Regions from separate parts of the Homo sapiens genome. Here regions 1, 2 and 4 are each linked to region 3. Evidence: fine-mapped expression QTL. A gene starts in region 3. Each other region holds a variant in brackets. All regions are shown on one strand. Distances are between the middles of the regions.

The links. PIP is the estimated chance that this variant, and not a neighbour inherited with it, causes the effect.
Region 1: its variant is fine-mapped to the expression of CSNK1E in whole blood (TOPMed, PIP above 0.99).
Region 2: its variant is fine-mapped to the expression of CSNK1E in fibroblasts (GTEx, PIP above 0.99).
Region 4: its variant is fine-mapped to the expression of CSNK1E in whole blood (TOPMed, PIP above 0.99).

What each region holds. Positions count from the first base shown.
Region 1 is chr22:38,354,808-38,362,183 of GRCh38, reverse strand. TPTEP2-CSNK1E (TPTEP2-CSNK1E readthrough) reads left to right here. Exons shown (of 15, transcript NM_001289912.2): 4 at 624-785. It also overlaps the pseudogene TPTEP2. Among named protein-coding and RNA genes, the nearest start is that of TPTEP2-CSNK1E, 40 kb to the left of the region's middle. The variant C/A (reference allele first, on the strand shown) is at 3,823.
Region 2 is chr22:38,290,494-38,297,869 of GRCh38, reverse strand. It overlaps TPTEP2-CSNK1E (TPTEP2-CSNK1E readthrough), which reads left to right. Exons shown (of 15, transcript NM_001289912.2): 12 at 3,336-3,528; 13 at 3,622-3,761; 14 at 4,551-4,615; 15 at 5,932-7,179. The coding sequence ends at 4,583. CSNK1E (casein kinase 1 epsilon) reads left to right here. Exons shown (of 11, transcript NM_152221.3): 8 at 3,336-3,528; 9 at 3,622-3,761; 10 at 4,551-4,615; 11 at 5,932-7,179. The coding sequence ends at 4,583. Among named protein-coding and RNA genes, the nearest start is that of TMEM184B, 21 kb to the right of the region's middle. RefSeq lists an enhancer at 7,198-7,376. The variant A/T (reference allele first, on the strand shown) is at 3,892.
Region 3 is chr22:38,314,529-38,321,881 of GRCh38, reverse strand. It overlaps CSNK1E (casein kinase 1 epsilon), which reads left to right and starts at 4,449. Exons shown (of 11, transcript NM_152221.3): 1 at 4,449-4,722. The region is part of intron 5 of TPTEP2-CSNK1E (TPTEP2-CSNK1E readthrough); the gene reads left to right. RefSeq lists enhancers at 2,105-3,009, 6,811-6,860, 6,881-7,050, 7,121-7,180 and a silencer at 4,732-5,121.
Region 4 is chr22:38,395,153-38,402,528 of GRCh38, reverse strand. TPTEP2-CSNK1E (TPTEP2-CSNK1E readthrough) reads left to right here and starts at 3,614. Exons shown (of 15, transcript NM_001289912.2): 1 at 3,614-4,091. It also overlaps the pseudogene TPTEP2. RefSeq lists a silencer at 3,557-3,836 and an enhancer at 4,102-4,885. The variant C/T (reference allele first, on the strand shown) is at 3,518.

The DNA of each region.
Region 1 (7,376 bases), 40 kb before region 3:
GTATTTGGAATATGTAACAGCAAGTGGCAGGAGGTACTTTAGAGTTCAAGACTCATGTGCCCATCACTCTGCTCGAAGCACCCATAAAGATGAAATCATGGACTTGTTGAAAATGTCACTGATGAAAAATCTTGGTCTTTTAAGAGCTTATGTTACTCATGCTTTCATTTGGTTTTTATTAATAAATTCTTTAGAATTATCCAGATTAATGAGGGTTTATTTTTTATGAGAAGTTGGTATAAACTTCTTATGAAATTCTCACATTTTAAGAAGAGTTTGTAAACAGACACAGGTGATTTTAATTCAGTTTTACTTTTTCTCTCTTGAGGTGTTGGTCTGATGTGTCTACTATAAAAGGCCATGATAATATCTTCTGAAGTGGTTTGGTGAGAATTTTGTTTATTAAGAACTGCTTCTATTGGGTGAAAACAGTGATTTTTCTGAGATTCTAAGGCATTACAGTTTTTCCTGCCACTGGGCAGCTTAATACTAAATAATAACATTTTGGTACCTGATCAGTGGCTTAAATATAGTATAGCTATAGGGACAAATGCCCCTTTATCTTTGCATTTATTTATTTATTTATTTATTTATTTATTTATTTATTTATTTATTTATTTTAGACTATTTGGAGTTTTCCTCGTCTTACTGGATGTCACTCTCGTCCTTGCCGACCTAATTTTCACTGACAGCAAACTTTATATTCCTTTGGAGTATCGTTCTATTTCTCTAGCTATTGCCTTATTTTTTCTCATGGATGTTCTTCTTCGAGTATTTGTAGAAGGGTAAGTTTGATTATTTTTATAATAAGAACCACTTTGGGAGGCTGAGGTGGGAGGATCCCAAGGTCAGGAGTTCGAGACAATCCTGGCCAACATGGTGAAACCCCGTCTCTACTAAAAATACAAAAATTAGCTGGGTGTGGTGGTGGTTGCCTGTAATCCCAGCTGCTTGGGAGGCTGAGGCAGGAGAATCATTTGAACCTGGGAGGCAGAAGTTGCATTGAGCCGAGATCATGCCATTGCACTCTAGCCTGGGTGACAGGGTGAGACTCCGTCTCAAAAGAAAAAAAAAAAAAAGCATTTAAAAATAATTAACAGGAGCATTCACTGCAAACTGACTTAAGAGCCTTTGGGCCTTATGAGAACATTGGTGGTAGTCTGGCAGTACCTCCCCATGGCCTGTGTTTGAGGTGGCCCTGGATTGATGCTCCTCTGTCTTTGGACAGGGGTGGAAATAGTGGGAGGGACTGCATCTTGTGGTTTGAGTGACAGCTCAGCCATAGCACAATAAAACACTACGTAGACTTTTACAGTTTTTGATCTAGGCCCTGATTCCCAGACAGCACCTTTGGATCCACCTGGAGGCTAGGAGAACTTGCCATCCTGAAGGGAAGGACACAGGCCTGGCTGTTTTTACCATGTGATGACTGTAGAGCCCCAGGGCCTTCAGCAAACTCATGCAATAGCTAAGGAGTGGTTACAGCAGGTCTTGGGCAAGACCCCGTGCTGTGCTGGCCTCAGGTCTGACCCAATGCAGTCACAGTAGTGGTGGCCACAGAGGTGCTTATGTCACTCAACCCCAAGCTTTAGGTGCCTCAGAACAGAGAGAGAGACTCTGTTTGTTTGGGAGAAAGTAAGGGAAGAAAACAAGAGTCTCTTTTTGGTAATGCAGAGAATTATCCTGGATCTTGTCCAAGACCATTAAGGCAGTACCGCTATGAGTCTGCAAGAACCAGAGTTTAGGAGGCTTGGGGTGCCCCCTAAAGCAGATAGAGATTAGATCACAGTATCCAAGTTCTTTCAAGTATCTGGAAAGCCTTCCCAAGAAAGATGGGTACAAACAAGCCCTGACAGTGAAAACTACAATAAATACAGTGAAAACTACAATCAATACCTAACTCTTCAATGCCCAGACACCAAAGAACATCTGCTAGCATCAACACTATCCAGGAAAACATGACCTCACCAAATGAACTAAATAAGACACCAGGGGCCAATCCTGTAGAAACAGAGATATGTGACCTTTCAGACAAAGAAATCAAAATAGCTGTGTTGAGGAAACTCAAAGAAATTCAAGATAACACAGGGAAGGAATTCATAATTCTATTAGATAAGTTTAACAAAGAGATGGAAATAATTTAAAAGAATCAAGCAGAAATTCTGGAGCCAAAAAATGTAATTGGCATGCCAAAGAATGCATTAGAGTCTTTTAATAGCAGAATTGATAAACCAGAAGAAAGAATTAATGAGCTTGAAGACAGGCTATTTCAAAATACATAGAGGAGACAAAGGAAAGAATAAAAAACAATGACGCATGCCTACAGGATCTAGAAAATAGCCTCAAAAGGACAAATCTAAGTGGTATTGGCCTTAAAGAGGAGGTGGGGAGTGTAGAAAGTGTATTCAAAGGGATAGTAACGGAACGTCCCAAACCTACAGAAAGATATCAATATCCAAGTACAAGAAAGTTATAAAACACCGAGCAGATGTAACTCAAAGAAGACTACCTCAAGGGATTTAATAATCACAGTCCCAAAGATCAAGGATAAAGAAAGGATCTTAAAAGCAGCAAGAGAAAAGAAACCAATAATATACAATGGAGCTACAATATATCTGGCAGCAGACTCTTTAGTAGAAACGTTTCAGGCCAGGAGAGAGTGGCATGACATATTGAAAGTGCTGAAGGAAAAAAACATTTACCCTAGAACAGTGTATCCAGTGAAAATATCCTTCAAAGTGAAGGGGAAATAAACACTTTTCCACACAAAAGCTGAGGGATTTTGTCAACACCAGACCTGTCCTAGAAGAAATGCTAAAGGGAGTATTTCAATCAGAAAGATAAGGACATTAATGAGCAATAAGTAACAACCTGAAGGTATAAAACTCACTGGTAATAGTAGGTATACAGAAAAATGCAGAATGTTATAACACTGTAACTATGATGTATAAACTACTCTTACTCTAAGTAGACTAAACTATGAGCCAATCAAAAATATTAACTACAACTTTTCAAGACATAGATGGTATAATAAGATAGAAATAACAAAAAGTTAAAAAATAGGGAGACAAAGTTAAGTTGTAGAGTTTTTATTAGTTTTCTTTTTACTTGTTTATGAAAACTTATAAGATTAAAATAATGGATTATAAGATAGTATTTACAAGCCTCATGGTAACCTCAAACCAAAAAACATAACAATGGATACACGAAAAATAAAAAACAAGAAACTAAATCATATCACCAGAGAAAATTACCTTCACTAATGAAAGACAGGAATGAAAGAAGGAAGAGAAGACCCCAAAACAACCAGAAAACAAATAACAAAATGGCAGGAGTAAGTCCTTACTTATCAATAATAACATTGAGTGTCAGTAGACTAAACTTTTCAATCAAAAGATAGAGTGGATGAATGGATGAAAGAACAAGACCCATCCAGGTGTGGTGGCTCACGCCTGTAATCCCAGCAGTTTGGGAGGCCAAGGCAGGCAGATCATGAGGTCAAGAGCTAGAGACCATCCTGGCAAACATGGTGAAACCCTGTCTCTACTAAAAATACAAAAATTAGCAGGGTGTGGTGGTGCGCACCTGTAGTCCCAGCTACTCAGGAGGCTGAGGCAGGAGAATCACTTGAACCCGGGAGGCAGAGGTTGCAGTGAGCCGAGATGGTGCCACTGCACTCCAGTCTGGTGACAGAGCAAGACTCCAGCTCAAAAATAAATAAATAAATAAATAAATAAAATAAAATAAAAAGACCCATTGCTCTGTTGCCTACAGGAAACACTCTTCTCCCATAAAGACACATGTAGGCTGGAAGTGGTGTCT[C/A]ACTCCTATAATCCCAGCACTTTGGGAGGCAGAGGCGGGTGGTTTACTGGAGGTCAGGAGTTCAAGACCAGCCTGGCCAATATGGTGAAACCGCGTCTCTACTAAAAATACAAAAAATTCGTCGGTCATGGTGGCGGTCGCCTGTGATCCCAGCTATCACCACTGAAACTCCTTTCAGTTTTCAGAAACAAACTGTAGGTGACCAGAAGCGTTATCCGCTAAGCGCACCACTTTAAGTCCCTGACTTAGAGCCACAAGTGTTCTGTTTACCTATTGTTACTACTCTTTTCACTCTGGCAAACAGATTAATTCACACAAAATTTTATTTGAATGGCTTTTCAATTTATCATAACAATGGTTACTAAAAAGTGAGAGAATATGTACTAAGGGTTGAGTACAAGTTAGTGCTAGTAGAAAATAAGAGCCTTAATAGAGAAAAAACTAGTTCTAATCAAAGACTGGATTTAGTCAATGATGTTTATATTTTTAGCTTACATTTATAGCTTCAGAAACATTTTGTTACTGATATTCCTATCATAATTATTGTTTCAAAAATTCTCTAGTCCCTAACCTTCCTTTTTTCATTAAACAACTGTTTTAAAATTAAACTGTTATCTTGAAGGTTTTTTTTTCTTTTGAGACTGAGTTTTGCTCCTGTAGCCCAGGCTGGAGTGTAATGGCACAATCTCGGCTCACTGCAACCTCCAGCTACCAGGTTCAAGTGATTCTCCTGCCTCAGCCTCCCAAGTATCTGGGATTACAGGCATGAACCACCACGCCCAGCTAATTTTTTGTATTTTTAGTAGAGATGGGGTTTCACTGTGTCGGCCAGGCTGGTCTTGAACTCCTGACCTCAAGTGATCTGCCCGCCTTGGCCTCCCAAAGTGCTGGGATTACAGGCATGAGCCTGGGTCCTCAGCCTTGAAGATCTTATAGAAAAAAGCAACTACTGTGTTATAGAATAACAAACTTTAAATAGAAACAAAGACATTTTAATACAATCTTAATTACTCTGTGAACATGTAGATTAACCTTTAAATATAGGCTTTTTTTTTTCCTCAAAACAGGATAAGAGTTATCTTCTCATTTTTAATTTCCAAGTTGAAACTACAGATGACTATGTTTACTGAATCACATTTCAGGATCTTAAATCTTCGGACAATTATGTGTTCTTTTTTTCTTCACATTTTTGGAACTCCCTCAGATTTAACATCAATTAAATAACCTAGCTAAAACCTTGAACTCTTTTCAAAACAGTAAGTGGTAGAATAACAATAATTTCATACTCATAGTTTTAAAAGAATTAAACAACTGGATTTGACAGACATTTTCACAATTTTTTGTTGTCATGCAATTTTGGATACAGCCATTCTGCATGGTTTCACAAAGTTGGCATAGAGAAATATAAGTTTCCTAAGTTGAAACGGAAGATTATAAAAGAGGGAAGGAGAATGAGAGTAAGAGACTGGTTAAAGATGCAAAGGATTTCCACTTCTTCATTGTTATGTAAATGTGTCTGCTTTTTAAAAAGCACAATCACTGAAAAATCTATTTGGATAATGCCTTCACTCTATGCAACTATATCTGACTACAGGCTGAGCACCCTTAATCCAAAAATTCTGAAATGCTCCAAAATGTGAAATTTTTTGAGTGCCAACATGATGCCAAAAGTGGAAAATTCCACACCCGACCTTCTGTGACAGGTTTGCAGTGAAAATGCAGGTATACAACATGAAGATGAGGTCAGGGAGTCATCTAAGACAAAAACCATTGTTAATAAGGCAGATGACTCCATAGGGAACTTTTTTTTTTTTTTTTTTTTTTTGAGACAGAGTGCAGCTCAGTCGCCCAGGCTGGAGTGCAGTGGTATGATCTCAGCTCACTGCAACCTCTGAGTCCCAGGTTCAAGCGATTCTCCTGCCTCAGCCTCCCGAGTAGCTGGGACTACAGGCATGCATCACCACGCCCGGCTAATTTTTGTATTTTTAGTAGAGACGGGGTTTCACCATGTTGGTCAGGATGTTCTCAATCTCTTAACCTAGTGATCCGCCCGCCTCTGCCTCCCAAAGTGCTGGGATGACAGGTGTGAGCCACCGCGCCAGGCCCATAGGAAACATTTTTAAAAGCCGGCCGGCAGAATGTCTCCTTAGCCTTAACGGACCCGCTTCCTGGTCCCTCAGCTGCTTCTGATGTTTCTTCTTGCCTAAGAAAAAATAAAATGTGGTGTACAGTAAACTTTTAATGAAAACACAGCATCCCAGGAGACTGAACGCCTGCCGCTGTGTGTTTCCACTGTTCAACAGCTGACACAGGGATTCTGATGCCGCTGCTGTGCTGCTTAGTTTCTCTGAACACTTTTTTTTTTTAACTGTACTAATGGTATGTCATTTTTTCTATTGTTAAGCACTCATGTGTGAATAAGTGTAAGAAAATGATGGCTTATCAGGAGCATATAAATTCAGAGTCAGGAGCTAGGCACGGTGGTTCACGCCTATAATCCCAGCACTTTGGGAGGCCGAGGTGGGTGGATCACCTGAGGTCAGCAGTTCAAGACCAGCCTGGCCAACATGGTGAAACCCCGTCTCTACTAAAAATACAAAAGTCAGCTGGGCATAGTGGCAGGCGCCTGTAATCCCAGCTACTTGGGAGGCTGAGACAGGAGAATCGCTTAAACTTGGGAGGCAGTGGTTACAGTGAGCCGAGTTCGCACCATTGCCCTCCAGCCTGGGTGACAAGAGAGGACGACGTGTTAGATCACTTTCAAATCCACACCAAGTGGAGACTCTGCTGGATGGGCGGAGCGCAGGCTGGCTCCAGGCCTTCCTGTTCCTGGCTCCGCCACCACCGGGCACGCTCAATTTCTTCCCCTCACATTCACCCAGAATGGGTCTATGTCCAGCCTGGTGGGGACCCTGCCTGGGCTGGGGGCTTGTCTCCCCACCAAAGAGGAGATATAGCAGGTACAGGCACCAGCACATGGCGGGGCTCAGAATATCCCCGCTGGATTGAATATGTGACTTCAGTCCATAGAATGAGAGGCTCCTGGCCGGGCGCAGTGGCTCATGCCTGTAATCCCAGCACTTTCGGAGGCTGACGTGGGCAGATCACGAGATCAAGAGATCAAGACCATCCTGGCCAACATGGTGAAACCCTGTCTCTACTAAAAATACAAAAATACAAAAATTAGCTGGGTGTGGTGACACGCGCCTGTAGTCCCAGCTACTCGGGAGGCTGAGGCAGGAGAATCACTTGAACCCAGGAGGCGGAGGTTGCACTGAGCCAAGATGGCGCCACTGCACTCCAGCCTGGGAGACAGAGGGAGACTCTGTCTCAAAAAAAAAAAAAAAAGAATGAGAGGCTCCTGGCCCAGCCTCACCTGCTGATTAGCGGGATGTAGAGGCTTTCTAGTGCTGGCTTCAGATCTTGTCACTCCACTGTCACCTTTGTTGTCTCCAGTGCCCACCTCTAAACTATTGTATTAAAATTATAGAATAACATGTTTTTAAATCAGCTTGCTTTTTTTTTACTTGAACAATTTTATTATTTTATTTTTG
Region 2 (7,376 bases), 24 kb after region 3:
CCTGAGCCCATCGGGGCCAGGCCTGAGGAAGTGTTTCTTGGGAGGATGGGATGACCCCCTGTTCCCAAGAGATGGCAGCACAGTGGAGGCCATGGTGGAAAAGGCCCTGCCATGGGGTCCTTGAGGGCCAGGACAGCCTGAGGGAGGGATGGTGGCCACTGCCCACAAGGGGCCTGGTGGGAACGGGTCCCAGGACAGACTCATAGCTAGACCCCGTTGGCGGCCTCTGTGTTGAACCAGAACTCATTAAACACCTCCTCTTGCTTCATCCTGGTGTGCCTCTTTCATGGCAGGGCCCTCAGCCACCCTGCTAGATGGTTAGGACCAAGGCTCTGTTCTCCTGGAAGCCAAGGTCGGCACATTGGTCTTGGGCTTCTCTTCTCTCTGGGTTTCTTGTTCACTAAGGAGTAACACAGAGGTCAGGCAGAGAATGGGGGTCTCGCAGGCTAGGGACCTCAGGGAGAGGCCTCTGTTGCCCTTTTCAGCAAGGCTGGAAATGGGATATGGGCAGGGGACGTCTTCTCTGACTTCACCCTAGACCTTCTGGCTCCAAATGGGGCCCATGGCCTTGAGCACCTGGGACCAGCTCTTTCCACCACAGGGCATTGGGCACTGGGCACTTTCTTATCGAGATAGTCACTCCCACGTCTGGTTCGTGATGGGCTTGGCCCTCCAGCTCAGCACAACTGCAAGAATGGATTTTGTATTCTCTAGACGGACACTGTCCAAGATGGTAGCCATTGGCCACATGCGACACATTTTTAATGAATTAAAATTAATCAAGACTGGAAATGTCGGCCAGGCCTGGTGGCTCATGCCTGTAATCCCAGCACTTTGGGAGGCCATAGAGGGCGGATGACTTGAGGTCAGGAGTTTAAGACCAGCCTGGCCAACATGGTGAAACCCATTTCTACTAAAAACACAAAAATTAGCTGGGCATGGTGGTGTGTTCCTGTAATCCCAGCTGCTTGGGAGGCTGAGGCAGGAGAATCGCTTGAACCCAGGAGGCAGAGATTGGAGTGAGCTGAGATCATGCCACTGCCCTCCAGTGGCCACCACATCCGGCAAGGCAGATGGGACCATTTCCTTCATCCAGAACGTTCTGTGGACATCACTGCTCTAGGTTCCTCCCTTATGGAGTCTCACAAGACTGTCTAGCCAGCAAGATCTCTTTTCCAACCAGGCCAGGAGCACCTCTCCACCCACTGCTGCTGGTCTGACCGCCTTCCTGGAAGTCCCTCTTGAGGCAGGCCCTGGAGTTAGAAGCTGGGCAGAGGCACCCACAGCCTTATCCTTTGCCAATCTCTGACTCAATGCCACGGCCACTGTAGTGAGCTGAACCACCTCCAGCAGTCCCCTGGCAGAAGCACCTGGAAAACATGCAATGGGAACCTTCACCCTGAGGCCAGGCCCTTCCCATGCTACCCAACAGTAGACAGGACACCCTGTGTTGTTGGCTGCACCGGGGTGCTGGGATCTGTGGATCCCTGGGGCCTGGAAGCCACTCTCAGCACATACAGCCACTGTGTTCCGAGGTCCAGTCAGCTGGCCGGGAAGGAATTCAACACAGCCAAGGACAGAGGTCCATATGATGACGGGTGGATGCTCGTGTGACTTTGCTGACCTTTTATGTTTTCTATGGGCAATAAAGGCCAAGAGAGCTCCCTGCTGTGTGTTTCTTGCGTCCTATGGGTTGGATGGGACCATGGAGAGTCGCCCACTTCTTGCCTCGGGGCTGGCAATGGCCTGAGCCTGCTGGGCTCACAAAGGGCAGGGGCTCCAGCCCTCTGCTTGGCTGCTGGCTGCAGGGCTCCACACCTTGGAGTGAGTCACTCAGCCTCTGTATCCCAAGCATGGAAATGAGATTGACCTGCCTCACAGGGTTGATGTGACTCTGCCCGCAGAAGGTTCGGCACGGAGGTGCCACAGCTCGTGTTCCTCCCCAGGCTTTGCTGTGGCTCTGGCTGAGTCACTGTTGGCCAGCCTGCAACCGAGTGGGAGCCCAGGGTGAGGACCGGAGGTCAGGAGTTAGAGCCCCGGTGGTCCCAGGCCTGCCTGAGAGGCTTCTGGGTGGGAGGATGGGAAGATGCATCTTCTAGAGTGTTCTAAGGCAAGACTCTGAACAGTGACCTCTTGGGGTGCAGAGAGCAGAGTGGGACTAGGTGGCAGAGGCCTGGGTTCAGACCCTAGCTCTGCCCTGAGCTGTGCAACCCCGGGCAGGTCACAAGGCCTCTCTGGGCCTTGGTGCCTCACTAAGATTCAGGGATCATTCTGGTCCTAGCCACTACTTCCTGGAGTTGCTTAAAGACAGGGCCCACCCCCACCTCTTGGCCAGTCTCCTGGGAGAGACATGGGTTGCAGGAACCACACCCTGTGCCCATGAGCAGGCCCCCAACTCAGCCCAGAGCTCTCTCCTCCACAGATGCGGCCCCCTTCCTGCCAGCCCCCTGCCCTTCCCTGTGGACGGCCCCAGGATGAACTAGGTAACGCAGTCGGGCGCTGCCCCCACATATGCTCTTCTCTGGCCCCTTCTCACTTCCTCCTGCACCAGGGGCGGCAGTGGCTGGACAGCAGGGCACCTGGGGGCTTAGGGTACCCCTTCTGCTCCAGCTTTGCCTGCTGGGCCTCTTCTTCCTCCGTGGGGAACGTGGCCCCATTTTCTTCTCCAGCTCCCCTTGAGCTTCTGTCCCAAGGCAGGCGGTGTCTGTGGGTTCCCTGGGCCTCCTGGCTGTGGCCTCCACTGCACCTGCCAGAAGCCATTGCCAGGTCCCGGCAGGGGGAAGGACAGCTCCCTGATGAGAAGAGCCCCTGGCTAGGTACCGGGAGAGCTGGTCTGAGTCCTAGCCCAGCCTTCCACTAGTTTTGTGACTCTGGGCCTGTTCTTTTCCCCCTCTGGACACCCCTAGCCAGTCTGCTAGAGGCCTCTAAACAGCTTTCCTGCTCGGTTTAGCAACCTTGAGTAGTTAAGGGCTCTTGGTACACAGAGGGGGGCCAGGGCAGGCCCAGCCCCAGGTCAGGAGGGCCAAGAGGTGCTCTTGATCATCCTGGGCGCATTAGTTGTCCTTTCTCTGGCTCCATCCCAGGAGAGCAGGGCAGACTGACCTCCCTCTGCCCCCAGACTCCTGCTTTCTCCTTCCTCTGGTGGTTGTGTGGCTTCGTGTCTCTGTGCTGTGTGATTGTGGGTCTTGGCTTCCCGCGCTTGTCAGGGAGGCTGGAGCAGAAGGTTTCTGAGATATCCACCTGGCCTCCCTCCCCTTCTGTGCCCTGCAGGGCTGCTGGGCCCAGAGCACCCTGGCCTCTGGGGCTGACTGGTGTCTTTTCTTGCATCCCTGCAGGGTGCAGCCCGGAATCCCGAGGATGTGGACCGGGAGCGGCGAGAACACGAACGCGAGGAGAGGATGGGGCAGCTACGGGGGTCCGCGACCCGAGCCCTGCCCCCTGGCCCACCCACGGGGGCCACTGCCAACCGGCTCCGCAGTGCCGCCGAGCCCGTGGCTTCCACGCCAGCCTCCCGCATCCAGCCGGCTGGTGAGCAGGGACTCAGGCAGTGGGCTGGGTTCAGGGTGGGTGGGGGGCTCTGTTTGTGCCTACTCTGAGGGTGGCTTCCCACTCTCCCTCCAGGCAATACTTCTCCCAGAGCGATCTCGCGGGTCGACCGGGAGAGGAAGGTGAGTATGAGGCTGCACAGGGGTGCGCCCGCCAACGTCTCCTCCTCAGACCTCACTGGGCGGCAAGAGGTCTCCCGGATCCCAGCCTCACAGGTGAGCTGCCCCCCTGCCAGTCCCTCTGGGCCTCAGAACTGAGTTAGAGACCCCCCAGTGGGAGGTCAGGCCGTGGCTCTGTTCTTCCCTTTCCATCGACGCTGCTTGCCTTGGAGTGAACCCCTTCTGT[A/T]GAGCCAGGACTTGGCCTCATTTAATCCTCTGAGGTCTGATGAGCCCTCTTGAGCAAAGTCATTCACCAAGGCTCAGGGCAGTAACATTCCCTGGCAAGTGGCACAGCTGGGCTCCAGTCCTCGCTGCCAGGGGCCCAGCCAGGGTGGGCAGCAGGGGCTCAGAGATGAGGTGTTGCTGCTCCCTGACATCAGGGAGCCCCCAGGAGCCCCTGTGAGCATTGGCAAGAGCATGGGGTGTAGGGGCAGTGAGGTCCCATCCTCTTTGGGGCTATGTTTGGATGGGGACACTTGGGAAGGGGGAATCTGTAGTTGCCCAGGGCAGGTGGCCTGGCAGAGGTGGGTGGGAGCCCTGCCCTCGTCCTCCTGCCTGTGGGCGAGGAGGGAGTCCTGCGAGAGAACCCTCATTGGCCATCTACTTAGGTAGCAGGTTTGCCTCCCTGGGCAACATTCTTAGCTACAGACAGGGACATCTTAGAGTCACTGGAATCACACAGGCCTTCCCTCAGCTTGAGGGGCTGCCTGGAGGTGGGGGTGGGGGTACACCTCCTCAGTGGGGAGAGACTTGCCAAATCTCTATCGCCAGCGGCTAAGGGACTTGACTTGAAGCTTGTACCTCCCTCTCTCTCCCTCCCCCTCTCTCCCTCCCCACCCTCAAAAGACAAGTGTGCCATTTGACCATCTCGGGAAGTGAGGAGAGCCCCCATTGGACCAGTGTTTGCTTAGGTGAGTCCATGACTGCTGCAGATGCAGCCAGCCCAGCCGACCTAGAAGCTCCCAGGGCCCCAGAAAGAGACCAATGTGTTGTGGAGGGGTGGGTGGCAGTGGCAGTGGCAGATGGTACCAGGCGCCCCAGAACTCTAAGGGGCCTCAAGTAGTTTAAAACCTCGGAGGCTGCCTGACTTGGGGCCAAGGGTTTCTATGCTCAGGCCTGACCCCTCATGGATTAGTTTCTGCTGGAAAAACTTTTTCTGCCCTCGGCCAGGTCTCTATCTCCTTCTGCCTTAACATATTTTGGAAGGTTGGTTCCCAGCAGAGACGGGGCCATGGGCTCACACTCTGACCTCTCCCACGGCATTAGCCCTGTCTCAGCCTCTGGGCTGTTACGCAAGTTAATTCCTGCACAAGACTCACAACAGGGCTGTGGAGGAAGCAAAGGAGCCCTTTTTATGCCTCTGTAGTAGGACTGAGAGAGGCCCTCTGGCCAGCGTGAGCCTGCTGGTTCTTCCCGGACTGTACCAGGCCTTGAGGCGGGGTATGGAAACGCCCCACTCTGGGGCCTGGCTTGGGGAAGGGGAGGCGGCAGGGGTTCTTTGGGCTTCTCGAGGGTATAATCTGAGCTCTCTGGGGAACGTGTGTCCATTTGTAGGCAGTAGTCCGACACGTCGGGGGACTCAACTTTACACTGGGACAATCTGTGTGTGGTCTGTTTTGTAGAAATTCATCCACACAAGAGAGTGGAGGCATGAACAGGGCTGGCCTTCCTCGGATCTCAGGCCCAGGAACCAAGCTGTCCATGGCGGGCTGGGCAGATATTTGGGGGTGGGGTGGGGAGATGCTCACCAGGAGGGCAGAGAAGGGAGAGAATCCGTTTCTGTCACATGAAGATGGATCTCCTAGCGTGCTGGGCCTTGAGCCAGGCTCTGGGGCCCAGAGGGAGATAGACCAAGGGACGAGAAGACAGGAGTTTGGGGGGCCAAGTGCAGTGGCTCGCACCTGTAATCCCAGCACTTCGGGAGGCCCAGACAGGTGGGTCACTTGAGGTCAGGAGTTCGAGACCAGCCTGGCCAACATGGTGAAAACCCATCTCTACTAAAAACACAAAAATTAGCCGGGTGTGGTGGCACACACCTGTAATCTCAGCTACTCGGGACGCTGAGACAGGAGAATTGCTTGAATCTGGGAGGTGGAGGTTGCAGTGAGCCGAGATCGTGCCACTGCACTCCAGCCTGGGGGACAGAGCGAGACTCCATCTCAAAAAAAAAAAAAAGTAGCCAGAGACAGCTGTGTACCTCACCTGTCTTTTCCCTTCTCCCTTCTAGTGTCTTCACTGTATTTTCTTTAAAAAAAAAAAAAAAAAAAAAAAGGCAAAAATAAACCACTCAAAAGAACAACAAAAAAACCCAGCACAAAACCGACGATGGAGTTTGTTTCTTTGATTTCTTTGCCAATGGCAAGAAGATGAGATGCCCTCAGCACTGAGGATTCTTGCCCCCTTGTGGTGCCCGCTGCCCCCAACCTTCAGGCTGCCAGATGCTCCCCTGACAACACCAGGCTACAGGAGCCAGACGCCAGGGCCTGCCCGGCCTCCTGTTCCTGCCCCCACCCACCACCTGCCTGGAGAGGAACGGGTCGGGTCCGTGTCGGAGAAGTGACAGGTCCCAGAGCCAAAGCCGGCCCTCAAGCATCATCAGGGAGTGGTGTAGTCAGTTGAAGGCAGTTCCCACCGAGTTTTCCGAGCCTCAGAATCCAGGAGATACGCACAGCCCCACCCACTCTGAGATGACAGTGGCTGACTTCCCGTGCTGGGCTTTTCCATTGTCCCCCTGGCCTCCAGGCTCCTCCTCTGCCTCTCCATGGAGTGGGTGGGGAGGTGGTGGGGGCCGGCGTCCCCTGCGTGTGTGTGTGTGTGTGTGTGTGTGGATGTATTGACCTGTGTTTCCCAAGACAGCAGGTGCCACGGCCCGCCCCGCCTGCCAGCCCGAATTCCCGTTCTCCTGTGTCTACTAACAAGGACATGGGGGTGGGCGGTGACCTCCGCATCCCTCAGAGCTCAGAGGGTCCTCGCTGCCACCGGTCCCCCCCTAGCCCGTCATCAGCCGGTGGCAGCTCCATCTTCCATTCCTGGTTTTAGGGCAGAATCCATGGAGACTGCTTCCAGAAGGCATCTGGCTCTGAGTTATAAATTACTTCCCTGGTCCTGACAGTCACCTGGGGTCCCCCCTCTCCCTGGTTCCACCTTTCTGAGGAGGAGCCTGGAGTCAGGGCTGGGTTTTGGATTAACCCATCCTTCCTAGTTAACACCTTTTTGTTTTTATTTTATTTTATTTTTGTTTGTTTTCTCCGTGTGTGTGTTTTCCTAATTTATTTACCTCTGTTTCCCCTTTTTCCTTTTTTTTTTTAATTAAAGAGCAAAGCTTTTTATTACTTTGTAATTTAAAAAACTGAAAAAAAAAAAACTGAAGAACTTTGGGGGGAATTTTGTACTTTTTTCCTGTGTAAATATTGGACTTTTTTGAGCTTTATCGTGGTTGTTAATTTGAAGTAATAAAGTAGAAAAGATAAAGTGATGCAGGCAGCCCTTTGTCCACCTCTGTGCCCTTAGGGCCTCTCCCTGCAGACCCGGAAGTGGGTCTTGCTGGGAGCAGCAGGAGTCAGTGAGGAACAAGCCCTCGCCCTGAAGGCAGGTGTGGCTGGGGCCACTTTCAGAACACTTGGGCTGTGGTTGGGATGTCCGGGGGCTTTGAAAACACGAGTGCACACAGGT
Region 3 (7,353 bases):
AACCTCCTTGGGCTCCGGTGATTCTCCCACCTCAACCTCCCAAGTAGCTGGGACTACAGGCATGCACCACCACACCCAGCCACCATGCTCAGCTAATTTTTGTATTTTTTGTAGAGAGAGCATTTCGCCATGTTATCCAGGCTGGTCTCAAACTCCTGAGCTCAAGCAACGCCTGCCTCTGCCTCCCAAAGTTCTGGGATTACAGGTGTGAGGCACCGCCTGTGGCCCAGCGCCAGGATTTTAAATTGGGAGACTGGGCCCAGACGTGGTGGCTCACACCTGTAATCCCAGCTTTTTGGGAGGCTGAGGCGGACGGATCACCTGAGGTCAGGAGTTTAAGACCAGCCTGGGTAACATGGTGACACCTCCATCTCTACTAAAAATACAAAAATTAGCCAGGTATGGTGGTGGACGCCTGTAATCCCAGCTACTCTGGAGGCTGAGGCAGGAGAATTGCTTGAACCCGGGAGGCGGAGGTTGCAGTGAGCCGAGATCGGGCCACTGCATTCCAGCCTGGGAGACAGAGCCAGACTCTGTCTCAAAAAATAAATAAATAAATAAACTGGGAGACCAGGAGGGCCTACCTCTGAAGGGGACTTGAGAAAGGTGAGAGGTGAGGGGGGTTGGTGCTCTGCGGGAAGAGCGCACCAGGCAGTGGAAACAGCCCCTGCCAAGGCCCTGAGGCCAGAGGTTCATTCCATGGGAGGCCAGTGAGGCTACAGGGCTGTGAGCAAGAAGAAAACTTACAGGAGCTGAGGTCAGGAGAGCCAGGTGCGGGGAGTGGAGGACAGATCCTGGAGGGCCGTTTTCAGGCCAGCCCTTGATGTTTAGTAAATCTATGAGTCCTTAGTCAAGACTGAGATTCCTGGGGCAGGTACTGAAATCTTTCTGGGTTTATCTGCAGCCATATCGTCATTATCTGGGAATTCCAGGGCTGTCCTTGGGATCCCAGCCCAGTGCTCCTGCGTGCCAAGTGATCTTGAAGGGTCTGAAATAGGGAGCAGGTAAAAAATGTCAGTTTGGGAACACAGTGGCTCACACTTGTAATCACAGCACTTTGGGAGGGCGAGGCAGAAGGGTCACTTGAGCCCAGGAGTTTCAGACCAGTCTGGGCAACACAGTAAGACCCCATCTCTATAAAAAATTTAAAAATTAGCTGGGTGTGGTGGTGCATGCCTGTAGTCCCAGCTACTTGGAAGGCTGAGGCAGGAGGATCGCTTGAGCCCAGGAATTTGAGGCTACAGCGAGGTATGATCCTGCCACTGCACTCCAGCCTGGGTGACAGAATGAGCCTCTAAAAAAAAGACAAAAGCCAGTTTGGAAAGGTGTTGTGAGAGCCACTATTCCTGAACCAATGCAGAGCAGCTGAAACCCAGGGTGGGCCCCTTGGGAGCTGGCAATTCACCCCACACCTATTCTAGCCTGATTTCATCTTCTTGTTGGCTTGCAGAGAAGGTAGCTAGGGGAACTTTGCCACACCCTTGGGTTTTTTGTTTTGTTTTGTTTTTTATTTATTTTTTTGAGACGGAGTCTCGCTCTGTCGCCCAAGCTAGAGTGCAATGGTACGATCTCGGCTCACTGCAACCTCCGCCTCCTGGGTTCAAGTGATTCTCCTGCCTCAGCCTCCCGAGTGGCTGGGATTACAGGTGCCCGCCATCGTGCCCAGCTAATTTTTTGTATTTTTAGTAGAAACGGGGTTTCACCGTGTTGGCCAGGCTGGTCTTGAACTCCTGACCTCAGGTGATCACCCGCCTTGGCCTCTGAAGTGCTGGGATTACAGGGGCGTGCCCGGCCCCACCGTTGGGTTTTAAAGTTAGGAGTTAAATCTGAGAGGAATCACTGTGAACCAAGTCGGAGAGAGAAGTCAGGCTGTGGGGCTGCTGGAACACGTAAGGTTTTGTTTTTCACTTTGGACCAGTCTCCCCTCCTCAGCTGGGTTTTGTGTCATGGTTTGCCTTCCCTTATAGCTTCACTGCAAAGCTCTTTGGAAGGGCCCACACACAGGTCTTCCAGGGATAGGAAGGACAAGGACTTGGGCCCACAACTCAGGCAGTGGACAACAGCATGTCCTTCCAATGGCAAGGCAGGGAGGCTCCCTAGCAGGCCTGGGGATGAGCCGGGCTCCTCAGCCTGGCTGGCCCAGGGAACTGAGCAGGATCTTAACTGGGGCAGGGGGTGGGGTGGGGGTGCTGGGGTGGGAGGTGTGGTTACAAGTCCTGAATGCAGAGGGGAGAACGTGAACGTGCTGCAGTCAGACCTGGCGATCTGGCTGGGTTAGGAAGGGGCAGGGGGTCTGTTCCAGCCAGGCCCAGTTTAAGGGAGAGGTTGATCTGTGCCCTTAGGCAAGCACTGGGAGGAGCCTGATTCCTTCTCTGAAAGAATACAGTGTAATCTGTTGTTGTTTGAGAGGATTAAATGAGATAACAAATAACCTCCTCTCCCAGGGCTGGTTGCCTTGAAAGTGCTGAAGAAGAGGAGGGCTTTGGGAAGCAGGGCCCAGGTTGGAAGGTTAGGGGTGGTAAGGACTGGAGGACACAGGGGCAGACTTCACCCCCTGCTCAATTGTGCCCAGGCCTCTCTGCCTGGGCTCATGTGAGGAAAGAAACAAAATGGGTGGCGGTGGGGTGGCGCTCAGGCCGGCTGAGAACTTGGGCCCAGAGTTACCGGATCTCCTAATGCCCCCAGAGAAACAGGGAATCTGGATCTGAAATATGAAATCTTCCAGTTTTAAAACTTTGGGGAGTGGCCAGGCATGGTGGCTCACGCCTATAATCCCAGCAGTTTGGGAGGCCGAGGCAGGCGGATCACTTGAGGTCAGGAGTTCCAGCCCAGCCTGGCCAACCCCGTCTCTACTAAAAATACTGTGTGGTCCTGGGCAAAAATTAGCCAGGTGTGGTGGTGCACATCTGTAATTCCAGCTATTCAGGAGGGAGGCTGAGGCTGGAGAATCACTTGAACCCAGGAGGCAGAGGTTGCAGTGAGCCGATATTGAGCCACTGCACTCCAGCCTGAGCCACACAGCGAGACTCTATCTCAAAACCAACAAAAACAAAAAGCAAAAAAAAAAAAAAAAACTTTGGGGATTAATTAACAAAACAACAACAGAAAGCACCGCGCAGGCCAAGTAAAGCCCACCACCTGGCTGGTGACCCCCTGCTCTGGCAAAGGTGTCACTGAAGGCAGGCCCTCCTGGGAGGAGGCTTCTCACTCTCCTGCTCTTGGAAATGGGCTCTAGATAGACCCAGTTTCCTGGTGATCGCTGGGAGAACAGAGCTGTCCTGTTGGGCTTTGTGGTCCTGGGCAAAGCCCTTCCCCTCTCTGGGCCAGTTTCCTGGCCGGCGAAAGGACTTAGTCTGTGGGGCTCCTGCCCGTTTGGACACGTGTGTGACTCAGTCCCTCAGCCTCGAGGAGGGAAGATACGGCTATTATAGAAGTGACTCCTCCCAGGAACTGTGCTTCCGGGATTGGACGCAGGGCCTCAGGCATTTTGCGTGTCCACAGTCACAACTGTGTGAATATAGGTGTGTCATAATTGGAAGCTTTGCATGGCTCAGTGTAAATATCATCACTTTAATGACTTTGTTCTGCAACCTTTCATCGCGGCTCTGCATGCCGGTAGAAGCTTTTATTAATTCTGTGACCTGGGGAGGACAGGGTCCTTCCTCCCATTTGCTGTTTAAGGAAACCCAAGCTCAGAGCTGGGAGGTGGCTTGGCTAAACGTGCACCACTCGGAGCCCAGACTCAAGTGTCGGTGCTTTGGTACTTGTGGCACCCCTCCTTCAACAGGGGAGAATGAGGTTGGGATCTGAGGGGTCCTCTCTGTGCCCATCACAGTTTGAGCTTCAGGGAAAAGAAGAAGAGGTCTTTGCCCTTCGTTTTTCCACGGGAGGAGAATGTATGAGCCCAGGCTACCTTTCTGGGCCTTGTGTCGACATCCCTAGCTGTCTCCTCAAATCTCTTGCCCTGAATCAACCTGGCCTGTGTTCTCTGCGGCACTCGGAACCTGGAGGCGGACTGAGCCTCCAGCAGTCTAACATCTTTTGCAGTGTCGTGAATAGCCGCCTGTTTTCGCAGGGGCCCAGTGCTCTGCCTGGAGAGGAGAGAGATCCTGGCAGGCGGGGAGAGGAGACTTTGGGTCTAGACCCTCCCCTCCCATCCCCTCACCTCCGCTTTTTGTGCGCCCTCCTCTTCCCTCTGTCCCCCCCGCACCCCGTCTTTTCCACCTGTGCCCTGGACTGCATTAGGGTGTCAGTATCTGTGTGCTCCCCCACCCCCACGCGTAAGCCCGCGCGCCTGCACTGAGGCTGGGGAACTGCGTCTCGCAGCTGCGGCCCCCAGCGCGGAGGGCGCGGGCCCTTTAAATCCTCCGGGGCGGCGGCGGCGGGCCGGGGATGACATCAGCGGGCGGGCCCGGGGCTCAATGGGAGCCGGCGGGCGCGCGCGGTGCGAGAGCGCGCGAGCCGGCGGCGGGGGCGGGCGGGCGGGCAGGAGGCCGGGAGGAGGGAGGCGGCGGCGGCGGCGGCGGCGGCGGCGAGAGCCCAGAGCCAGAGCCCGGCCGGGGCCGAGCGGAGCGCGGCGGCGGCGGCGGCGGCGGCGGCTGGGCCGGGAGAGGCTGGCGCGCCGGGCGGCTCCGCGAATCCTCCGGCATCCGCCCCGGCGGGCCGCCCCCGCCCGCGGCAGCCCCCCGAGCAGTGGCCCGGCATCGGCGCCTTCCCGGCGGGGTAAATATCGGGGGGCCGCGGGCCCGCGGAAGGGTGCAAACCTGGGGGGAATCGGGCTCCCTCAGCCTCTTTGTTTTTGCTGGAGAGGGAGGGAAGGGAGGGCAGACACACGCGCGTTCGCGCTGGGGTGTAGGGGGGGCAGCCCGGGCGCCGCCCGCTCGGCCCGGCGAGGACAAAGGCGCGGCTGGGGACGAGGAGGAGGGGGCCTGTTATTTTGCAGGCTCGCGGGGGAGGCCCCCCGGCCGGCCTGCCTCCGCTTCCCCCCGCTGGGCCCTCCGAGGCCCCGGCCGGCCAGGCGGCCACCCCGGCTGTGATTTGGGGACGCTGAGGGAGGGGGCTTGGGGTGCTGGGCGCCGGATACTGTTGATTCGGGCCCGCGTAGCGTTTCATCGGACAATCACCGGCGCCCCCTGCTCTCCCGGCCCCGGCGCCCGGACCTGGGGGTTCGCAAGGCTGCGCCCGCTCGTTGGATGACGGGCGTTTGGGGGTCCTAAGGTGAAGAGGTGTGTGGTCACCAGGCCACTGATTTGTTTTTCTTTGTGGAGAGAAAGAAAGGGGTGGGGGTTATTTGTCGGATCGGATTCTCCCATTTTTGTGTGAGAGATTGATGTCTTGCAAGTCTCTAAGGAACGCAAAACAGTGTCTGGGTGTCGTTAGAGGATTCCCAAGCTCTTGTTAATACCCTAACTCGAAGTGGGGTGAGCCCCCTCCCCAACTTTTCCCTTAGTTTTCTTGCATATTTTCTTCCTGGCATAGCCTCCTTCCTGGAGAAGGATTTGGAGAGAGGAGAAGGGGACACAAGTGTCTCAAGTTGCTTCCAAGCAATGCCTGTGTTTGGGTCTCCTTTGCCTTCGTTTCTATGATGTCCCTTCAATTTTTATTTTAATCGTCCGAGGGACAAGGGCCCCGGCTCAGGGGTAGGCGATGGTGTTCGGGGAGTAAGAAGCACTGCCCGTGTGCCATGCTGGTTGGTAGTTTGTCTAATTTTTTTAACCTGCTGAAACTCTTGAACCTTTATATCCACTTTTCCCCCCACTTTGTTTATCTCCCCCCCTCCCCCATGGGAGAAGCAGCAAAAGAACTGAAAAGCCTCTCCATTCCTGAATGAAGCTTTTCTGCTCTCCTCTGGGAGGCTTTTTGGGTATTGGTGCCGGGACAGTCTAGGCTCCCCCAGGGACCTTGGACCCCTGGGGTGTTGGGGAGCGACTGGGGGTCTGGGTGGCTGGCACATAGCAGTCAGGGGGTCCTGAAGGGCTTGCCCCTTCCCGCTCTCGTTCTCTGCAGACAGCCGGTGAGTGGGGAGAGACTGGGGGGTCATGTGCAGTATATTTATGTAAGACACCCAGACAGAGGGCACGGGTATTTATATAACCCGGCGTGGGTATTTATGTAATATAGGATGCGGGTATATTTATGTTCCTTTCCTAACCTGCGGGTTTCCTGGCTGCCATGTGTGGTCTCTGAATTGGTGTTGGCAGAAAGTGGACTGAGGTGTTGGGGGGGGGTTGCGTGCACACCCCCCCTTACCCCCCAACAGGGCTCACTGTGTGTGCCTGCTTTTCTTTCTTCCGTTGGAGTGTACACACTCGGGAAGCTGGACGTGTGTGTACGTGGGATGTGTGGCGTGTGGGTTTCCTGCAAACGTGGACTGTGTTCCCCTGGCAGCGTGGCACCTCAGCTGAGACAGGCCAAGCATATGGGCAGCGGCCCTTGATTGAGAGCCCAGAGTTTGGCCAGCTCTGGTGGAGGTCCCTGCCTCGTGGTTATTGGTGGAGGGCTGGTGAGCTCCTTGGGAGCCAGGTGCCGGGGTTCCCTGTCTCTCCTGGGATCTGCCCACTGTCCCTGGAATCCATCTCCCTCCCAGGCTGGCCTGGTTGTTGGGGGCAGCACTTGGCACGGGCAAGGGGCTGATCTTCTGTGCCAGCACAGCTGCTCTGCAGTCTTCCTGTTTTGCCCTGTTTGTGAGTGTGGGAGACCACCAGGTGGGACAGCCGGAGCCCTGTCCTCGGCGAGGCTGTACCATCTGCAGGGTGGTGTGGGACAGGTGGCATGGCCTCTGTGAGCCTGAGTACCCTGTCTGTGAAAGGAGTTCCCTCTTGCTAGTCCTTGATGCTGGTCCTCTTGTAAACACCCCTCCCCCTGTTTACTGCAGTCCCTGGTCCCTGTCCCCACGGCAGCACTGCCTCCAGGCCTTCAGTTTCCTCCTCTGCTGACCAGGAACAGGGTGTCCGGACTTTTGCCCCAGGCCAGAGCAGAGGGGTCCCTCCTCTGCCCCAGGCCAGAGCAGAGGGCTCCCCCCTGGCCCTGAGGAAGGAGAGAAGCTGCTCACATCAGAACTCCTCCTCCCACCCATCCGGGGCAGGCGGCTAAAACCCTGGCTCAGTCCCCTTTGTTGTTCTATGAGGGCCCTCTTAGGAGACCCTCCTAGTCTTAAAGGACGCCAGCTCCAAACAGTTTATCCAAGCGGCTATGGGCCTCCGTGTGAGGTCTTGGTGTCATGACGTAGAGATGGGGAGGTGGCTGGAAGGTGGATGGTCGAGGGCATTCTTTTCTGCCTTCCCCCCAGTAGGGGATGCGACTTTCTCCTGCAAGGCGTGCTGGGCACTGGCGAGGTCTGGCCTCTGGGCAGGG
Region 4 (7,376 bases), 81 kb before region 3:
TTTTCTTGTCCCATTCTCAGGCAGAGCTCTCTCTGGCTACGGTTCCAGTGCTGTGGGGCCTGGATGGGCAGCTGTGACAACAGAAGGTCCACAGCCCTTGGCCTGTGTTCAGGGGCCCCGGGGCCAGGGGGAGCCCGGCAGTCTCTCCTGTGCTCATTCTGAGTCTCTCTGAATCAGCCCTTACCTTCAAGGCCTGCCTCCTCCAGGCAGCCTTCCTAACTGCTTCAGCCAGAAGGGGAAGGGGAGGACATGCTCACCACCCGCCGGGCTTACTAAATACCTGCTGCTGGGTCCAGCGCTATGACATTAAAATAAATAAATAAATAAAAAATAAAAATAAACTCTAGTTTAATCCTTCCAACCCTTATGGAAGGAGGCATTTCACACCCACAGGTGCGGCAACTGAGCCTCAGAAAGGTGAAGAGACTTGCCCAAGGCCGCCCAAAGAATCAGCCTCCATGTGGGCTCTAAGTCTGCCCTGTTCCTGTCTTTGGGACTCCCGCCCGGAGAGCCCGAGCCCCTCAGCAGCAAAGTCCCAGGGACTGTGGAGGGACTGGGATAGCTGGACTCCTGTCGGCAGGGATGCTCATCACTGGGTGACCTTGGTGACATGGCCCGCTCTCCTTCCTCCCTGGAACTCGATGATCTCATCTATCAAATAGTGCCTGGCCTGCGACCCAGGGAAGCTGGGAGCATGTCTTGTCTATACCTCCAGTCCCTCTGGGCCCCTCTCCCAGCCTCCACACACTTCTCCAGCTCAGAGGGTGCCAAACAAGCTCAGCACCCCCTGCTGCTCCCCACCAGGCCCCTTCCAGTCCCACAGTCCCCCATTTCCTGGGCCAGAGTCCTGAGCAAACCCTTGGAGTCTTCCTTTTCTTGCCCCCACATGCAGTCACCAGGTCCTTTAGCTTCTCCCAACAAAGGGCCCCAGCTGGCATCTGTCTCCACCAAGCTTTGGGCTCCCCACAGGTGGGCTCAGGTTGACTCAGCTCAGAGAAAGTTAACTGCGGGACAGGTGCACAGCTCAGCAGCAGGAGGTGGCAGAAGGTGCTGACCCTCCTCGTCAGCTCTGCCTGAGCTGTTTGGACAATTGTGAAAAATGAGGTGTAGCTGATGTTTGCTGCATTGAACCAAGGTGAAGTGGGGCTTTTCTGCCCCTTCTCCAAGTACCATGTGCAGAGCTTCTCTTTTGGTTCCATTCTTTGTTTTTTTTGCTGGCATCTAGTAGCACCTGACTCCTTTAGAGATGGCCTAGGAAGGGAGTGATGGCAAAGCTGGATTTCTTGTGGGTGGAGCTAAGCATAGGAAGACCAACGTTCGATTTTCAATTTTCACTTCATGCAGTTATGAGTTTCTAGCTTTTATTACAAAACCAAATGTTTGCAGTGTTCTCCTGTTACTTTTGGAGTTTCCATATTTTAATTGTTTGAACTATACATGCTTTCCAAATAAATGGGAGGTATGAGTCTCACATTCTAAGGGAAGAATGTGTCTCAGGGAAGCCCTCCCGGACGAATTCAGATCCCTCTATGTTCTTCTGAAAACACAGTATGTATTTGCAACCCAGCAGTCAGTCACTGGCAGAATTTTGCAACGATTTCCCAGTTTCGTTGGCACGACTCCAGGACAAGGTTCTTTGTAATTCTTTGCTCAAACATAAGGAGGATCACATATAAATAAAACTCTTAGCGGATAGATCAGTGAATATAATCATCTTTCAATTTTAAAAGCTACAACATAATAAGGCACTTTTTTTTTTTTGAGGGAGGCAGCGAAACAGTAACAAATCATGATGCTATAATGTGAACAAAGTGGTAGCTTTGGAGGGCACAGGGGGAAAACAAGCACAACCGTTTTTGCTCAGAAAATAATTCAGTAGCAACAAGGTCTGAGAGCCAGGAATCTCCTTGTTCTTACTGAAACGATTATTTGTCAAAATATTTGATTGTTTCCCTATTCCCCCTGAAAAGTTTGGACTTTTCTTTTTGCTCGATTTTGACACTGGAATTTTTAACTGTCAGTGCTATTGTGTTTACAGCATTCAAGTTCTCAGAGTTCAAAGGTTATCCATTAACATGTAGAATGAGGCTACACTTAAAGGCTCAACCTGGTTGCACTTGTTCATAGTTTCTTTGTTGTGTAGCAAGGCTCATAGTCATTTGTTTTCATAAAGTTAAATGAAGTTTCTTGTTTATGAAGTGTTTTTGGACTGTGTTTTAGAATGTGACAATAAGATTAAAAAATATATTTTAAAGATAGGTATTCATCTTTTGTCAGAAAAGGACTCCTAATACTAAAAGTGATCAATATCAGTGGACTTGAGTGAAAAAAAATTCACCCAATTTAGTTTTTTAGTGCTGGCCTAAGAATCTACCGGCACTGCTAATTAATTGTGAGTAATTGATTGGCTTCCTTTTTAAAAAAGACTAACCAGACCATATGGGGGGTTAGTAGTTATATATAAAATGACAGCAAAACATGACACTTGGCAAATTCTTCCCCTTTGCTGAGCTGTCTTCTCAAATTCCTTTTCCTATTTATTAAGATTGCATTGCTCACCAGCTCCGGATCGTTTCTGTAGTGCGTTCTTTCTTTTGATTTAGGAAATAGATATTTTAAATGCTTTTCTTGATGTGTTTTAAAGTTTTTTCATTTTGGATATGCCGAAGGCCAGTAAAAAAACAAATATTTGGCTATTTTGTTGGTAGCGACTTGCATAGATCCATTTCACATTTGCATTAGTTTGCATTTTGGGGTAGAAAAATTGTGGATATGTTTGTTATGTCTGTGGTTCCTCGAGGCTTACTTAAAATGGGGAAATATCACAGGCCTTAGGAATCAGGATTTTTTTTGTCCTTTTTTTCAGTAAGAAAAAAAAAACAGTTGGGAAACGATTTAAATGAGTTGTGCGTAGGGAGGAGGGGAAAGGGTAGCGGTTTTTTGTTTTTTTTTGTCCCCGGTTTCCTCCAAATGGATTTCTATCAAAACCAAGTAGATTCTTGGAACCTAGTCTAAGTTTAGAAATCTCAAGTTAGAATAGCGCAAGCCCAGTCCTTTCAGAAAAAAAAAAATCAGAACAATTAAATAGCTTTCTGAAGATACTCATTTAAAAACTTTATCTTCTCGACCTTCCTCACGCTTGAAGAAAATCTGAGGTGTTTTTCGCGCACAGCTGCCTTCTAACCCGCGAGCAACGGCGTTAAGGTTTTGTTTGTAATTCGGGGTGACCCAGGAGTTCGGGCCGCGGGCCCCTCCCCTCGCCCGGGCACACCTTGCAGAGGAGGGGGCGGCGGGGACGGGACCCGGGTCTGCGCCTGCGCACACCCTCGCGGCCCCCCCCGCCCCCCCCGCCGGGTACCTGTCACGGCTACCGCCGCGGCGCTCGCCCGCCACGTTAAATCGGATGGCGGGAGTAGGGGTATGGGGCGGGGGGCGCGGGGAGGGTGGCACGGCGCGTGCGTGCGCGGGAGTCGCCGAGCGATAACTGGGAGTGCGCGCGCTCGCCGCTCGCTCGCGT[C/T]CCGGAGGCGGAGTCTGTGGCGGGGGGCGGAGCGGGGGCGGGCCTATGCTAGTCACGTGGGCGCGGGGGCGGGGTGGGGCGGGGCGGGGCGTCTCCGAGCGGCGGGCCGAGGGAGGGCGCAGCAGCTGCTCCCTGAACACTTTCTGACCCAACAGTCCCCCAGCGCCGGACGCGCCGCGCCCTGGCGGCTCTAGGGACCCCCCCCGCGCCTGCACTTAGCCCCGCGCCCGAGGTGAGCCCGGCCCCTAAATCCTCCGGGCGGGGGTGGGGGTGCGGGACGCTCCTTTTTTGTTGGGGGTCTTGGAGGCGCGAAGGCACTAGGCGCCTCGGCAGATGGCTGCACCCCTCGCTTGCGGCTCCCCGTGTCTTTTGGGGGGCCGGGTGCGGGCGCGGAATCCGGGAGGTGTCCGCACAAAAGGCCGAGAAAACTGCGCGAGGCCTCCCTCCCTCCGCCCTCCCCGCCCCCTCCCCTCCGCGCCCGCTCCTCCTCTTTCAAACCCGGCCGGCCCGAGTGGAGTCAGCTCAGTCCCGGCAGCCGCCGCGCGAGGAAATGGCCGAGGGGCCGGAGCCACAGGTAAAGGGGGGCGCCCCCCGCCCGCGCCAGCCGGGGCGCCCGCCTGGTCCTGCGGAGGCTCCCGCGCCGCCCCCGAGGCGCCCGGCTCTCGTTGTCTTGTCCCCCCCCAGGATGACCTCAGTTCCCCGTCTCAGCTTTCTAGCTGCTCTTTCTAGGGCGCCCCCTCCCCAGCCGGCTCCTGCGCTTCCGCTGGCGGGAAGGTGCGGGCGATCCCGGGCTGCATCCGCTCTTGGCCGTCACACTCACGCCGCACGATTCAGAAGGGCTTGGGGTGCGGGGTTCCCTGAATCTCCGCCGGGAGCGGGGGTCCGGGGGTCTGCGGGGGTGGGCGGTGGGGGGCTGTTCCGAAAAGTTGGGTCGCCCCGCGGGGCGGGTCTCCCAATTTGCCCAGTCGGCCCTTGGGGCGCGGGCGGAGGGGGGACGTTGGCGTAGGGTCCCCCGCGATACCCCGGGAAGGGCCGGGGGAAGTTGGAAATGGCCAAAACAATGCGTCGGGACAGGCTTCCCCCGTAAACAATGGCCGGGACGGTCCACACGGGCCAGGCGGAGGGCGCGTCTAAGGGACCGCGGGAGGGGCTGGGCCTCTCCGCGGACCCCGAGGTGCGCCGGGTGACTCCCTCGGGTGCCCAAAAATCTGTCCCCGGGAGTCCTGGGGCGCCTGCTTATCCCTGAGCAGGGATGCACGGGGCTGCGTTTCCTGGATGTGTGCGATAAGGTGGCTTTTTTTTCCCTCCTCTAATTTTAAAGATTTTTCTTAAGTCTTAATGTTCTATAAACACTTAAAGAATATCTTTACAACTCAATTGTAGTGGAACACCCAAAGGCAGCTGGAAGCAGAACTGGGAACTCTAAAGGGCAGGAAGGATTGAAATGCTAGCCCAAAAGTGCTGCTGCTTTTTTTTTTTTTCTTTTCTTTTTTTAAAGGGAAGTTTCTGCCAGGAGGTGCCAAGTGGTGAAACCGCTCAGTTTCAGGCACAGCCCTCTTGTCTCTCGATTTGGCCCCGACTGCGAGCCGGACGGGATGGTGGAGGGGCGGAGGGCGCTGCTGGGGGCCTGGGAGGCTGGATTTAGGGCTGCCTGGGCGGTACCGCCCGAGGGGCAAGACCCGACAGCGGGGCGCGCGCCGCAACGTAAGTCCCGGGGATTTGAGAAGACGTTCAGGGCCTGGGTTGGAATCCACATTTTGGGATTCTGGGTAGGGCCACCGAAGACGGGAAGGCGCATTCTTGGGCGGATGGGGTGAGCAGGCGGGGAGTTTTCCGCCAGGTTTAGTTACAGGAGCTAGAAAAGGCCACTTCTGGGACCCTGGCATCTGGGCCACCCTGAGAGCCCCAGAAACTTTTTTTTCTTTTTCTTTCCCCCCCACCCCCCAGAAAAGGATAGTCATTTCAGGTTTAAGGCTTTGGTGTATTGTTCCACTTCGAAATTCCTTGAGCCTCAGTTTATCTTCCTGAATCAGCCTATGGTGCTTGCAGCGGAGAAAGTAAATGGCGGTTGCAGTGGTCCACTGGCCAGTTTGGGGGTCCTGTATAATTGGCCACTGTGTGTGTCAGGCCTCTGAGCCCAGGCCAGGCCATTGCTCACACAAAGCTTGTTTGGTGGTCTCTTCACACGGACGTGTATGAAATTTGGTGCCGTGACCCCAACCCTTAAGAAGGTTGTTTGTAATTCTCCCCACCCTTGAGAATGTACTTTGTGAGATCCACCCCTGCCCACCAGAGAACAACCCCCTTTGACTGTAATTTTCCATTACCTTCCCAAATCCTATAAAATGGCCCCACCCCATCTCCCTTTGCTGACTCTTTTCGGACTCAGCCCGCCTGCACCCAGGTGAAATAAACAGCCATGTTGCTCACACAAAGCCTGTTTGGTGGTCTCTTCACACGGACGCATATGAAAGTGTGTCCTACAGCGTAGCTAGGTTTCTTAGTTTTCTAGATCGTTTGGAAGCATTAAGCTGTATGTTTTAAGAAGCCTAGGTCTGATTTAGTTCAGATTGATTCAATAATGTCTTCATCGCTTTTGAGTTGGTTGAATGACTTGACATGAGATTAAGCTCAACAAAAGAAAAGGTGAGGTAGCAACAGCTGCCGTCCAGGCCTGGCCACTAGGTAGGGGTCTTAGGAGGCCTTTTACCTTCTCTTTTGTATATGTCAAGAGGGACATTTACAATGTTCTTATTTTACTGTACTTCTTTCCCCTGAAGTGGATGTTCTTTCTTGATTGATATCAAACAAGACTTAAAATGCTAAGTTTTATGATACTTAGACAATGAGTAATAGATGTAGTTTCTAAAAGCCTTTATGTGTCTGCAGTGACAAGTGCAGAGGAATAACCTCATTGCTTTTTGTCTGAAAATATAACAGGCAAGCCACTAGTTTGTGCTTACTTAATGTGTGCTAAGAACTTTTAAGGTATGTCCTTAATGGTAGATAACTTTTTTCCTTCTGAGAAGTCATATTTATTTTAGATATTGTTTTGTTCAATATTCTGGAGACTAATAGTGTTTCATTTTGTTTCTTAACCCTGATGTTGCTGCCATTTTTAATCGGTTATATTTAAATTCAAGAGGCCGTAAGTTATTTAAAATACAGTTGTCAGTAGTTACAAGGCAGATTTATCATTTATTTTAATTGTTAGAATAGGATTAATAATCTGTTTGGAATTTTAATTATTTGGCATGATGAGGAAAGCTAGTCCTTTAGAATTGTCTTTATTTGCCTACAGAAGGAGGAAGTAGAGGACAAGATACGACTTTTATTGGTGAAGGACACACACTTTTTTCTTTAGTGTCCCACTCTTTTAATCCTTTTGTCTTCACATTTTTCTAACGCTTTGCAGTTTGACCTTTGCTGTTTTTTAATAACTTGTGAGATCGAAGTTTAGCAGTTGTGTTGGGTTCCTATTCCCTTTCACTTCTTACTCAAAAAAAGGAACTAATACACCACTTAGAAAAAATTTGTAGAAAACTTTTCTCCCCTTTACCCTGAGGAATCTATTTTGGTAACAGGTCAAAATTTTTTTCCACGTAGTAGGGGAGGAAGGAGGAGCAGTGAAGGTTTTGACTTTGACTGCCTTTACTTTTTTAAGGTGGGGGTAGATTTGCATTTTCTTTGTGAGCCTCCATTTTTGGCAGGAAAAGTTCAGGGAGGAGTAGGAGCCCCTAATCCCCTTCCAGTGGACTTGTTTTGGAGGAAATCTGAAAATAAGACTTAATCATCAAGTCACTTATAGACTGATGAAATAATTAAGGAATATAATGGCCTGGCAATGACTAAGTCGTTC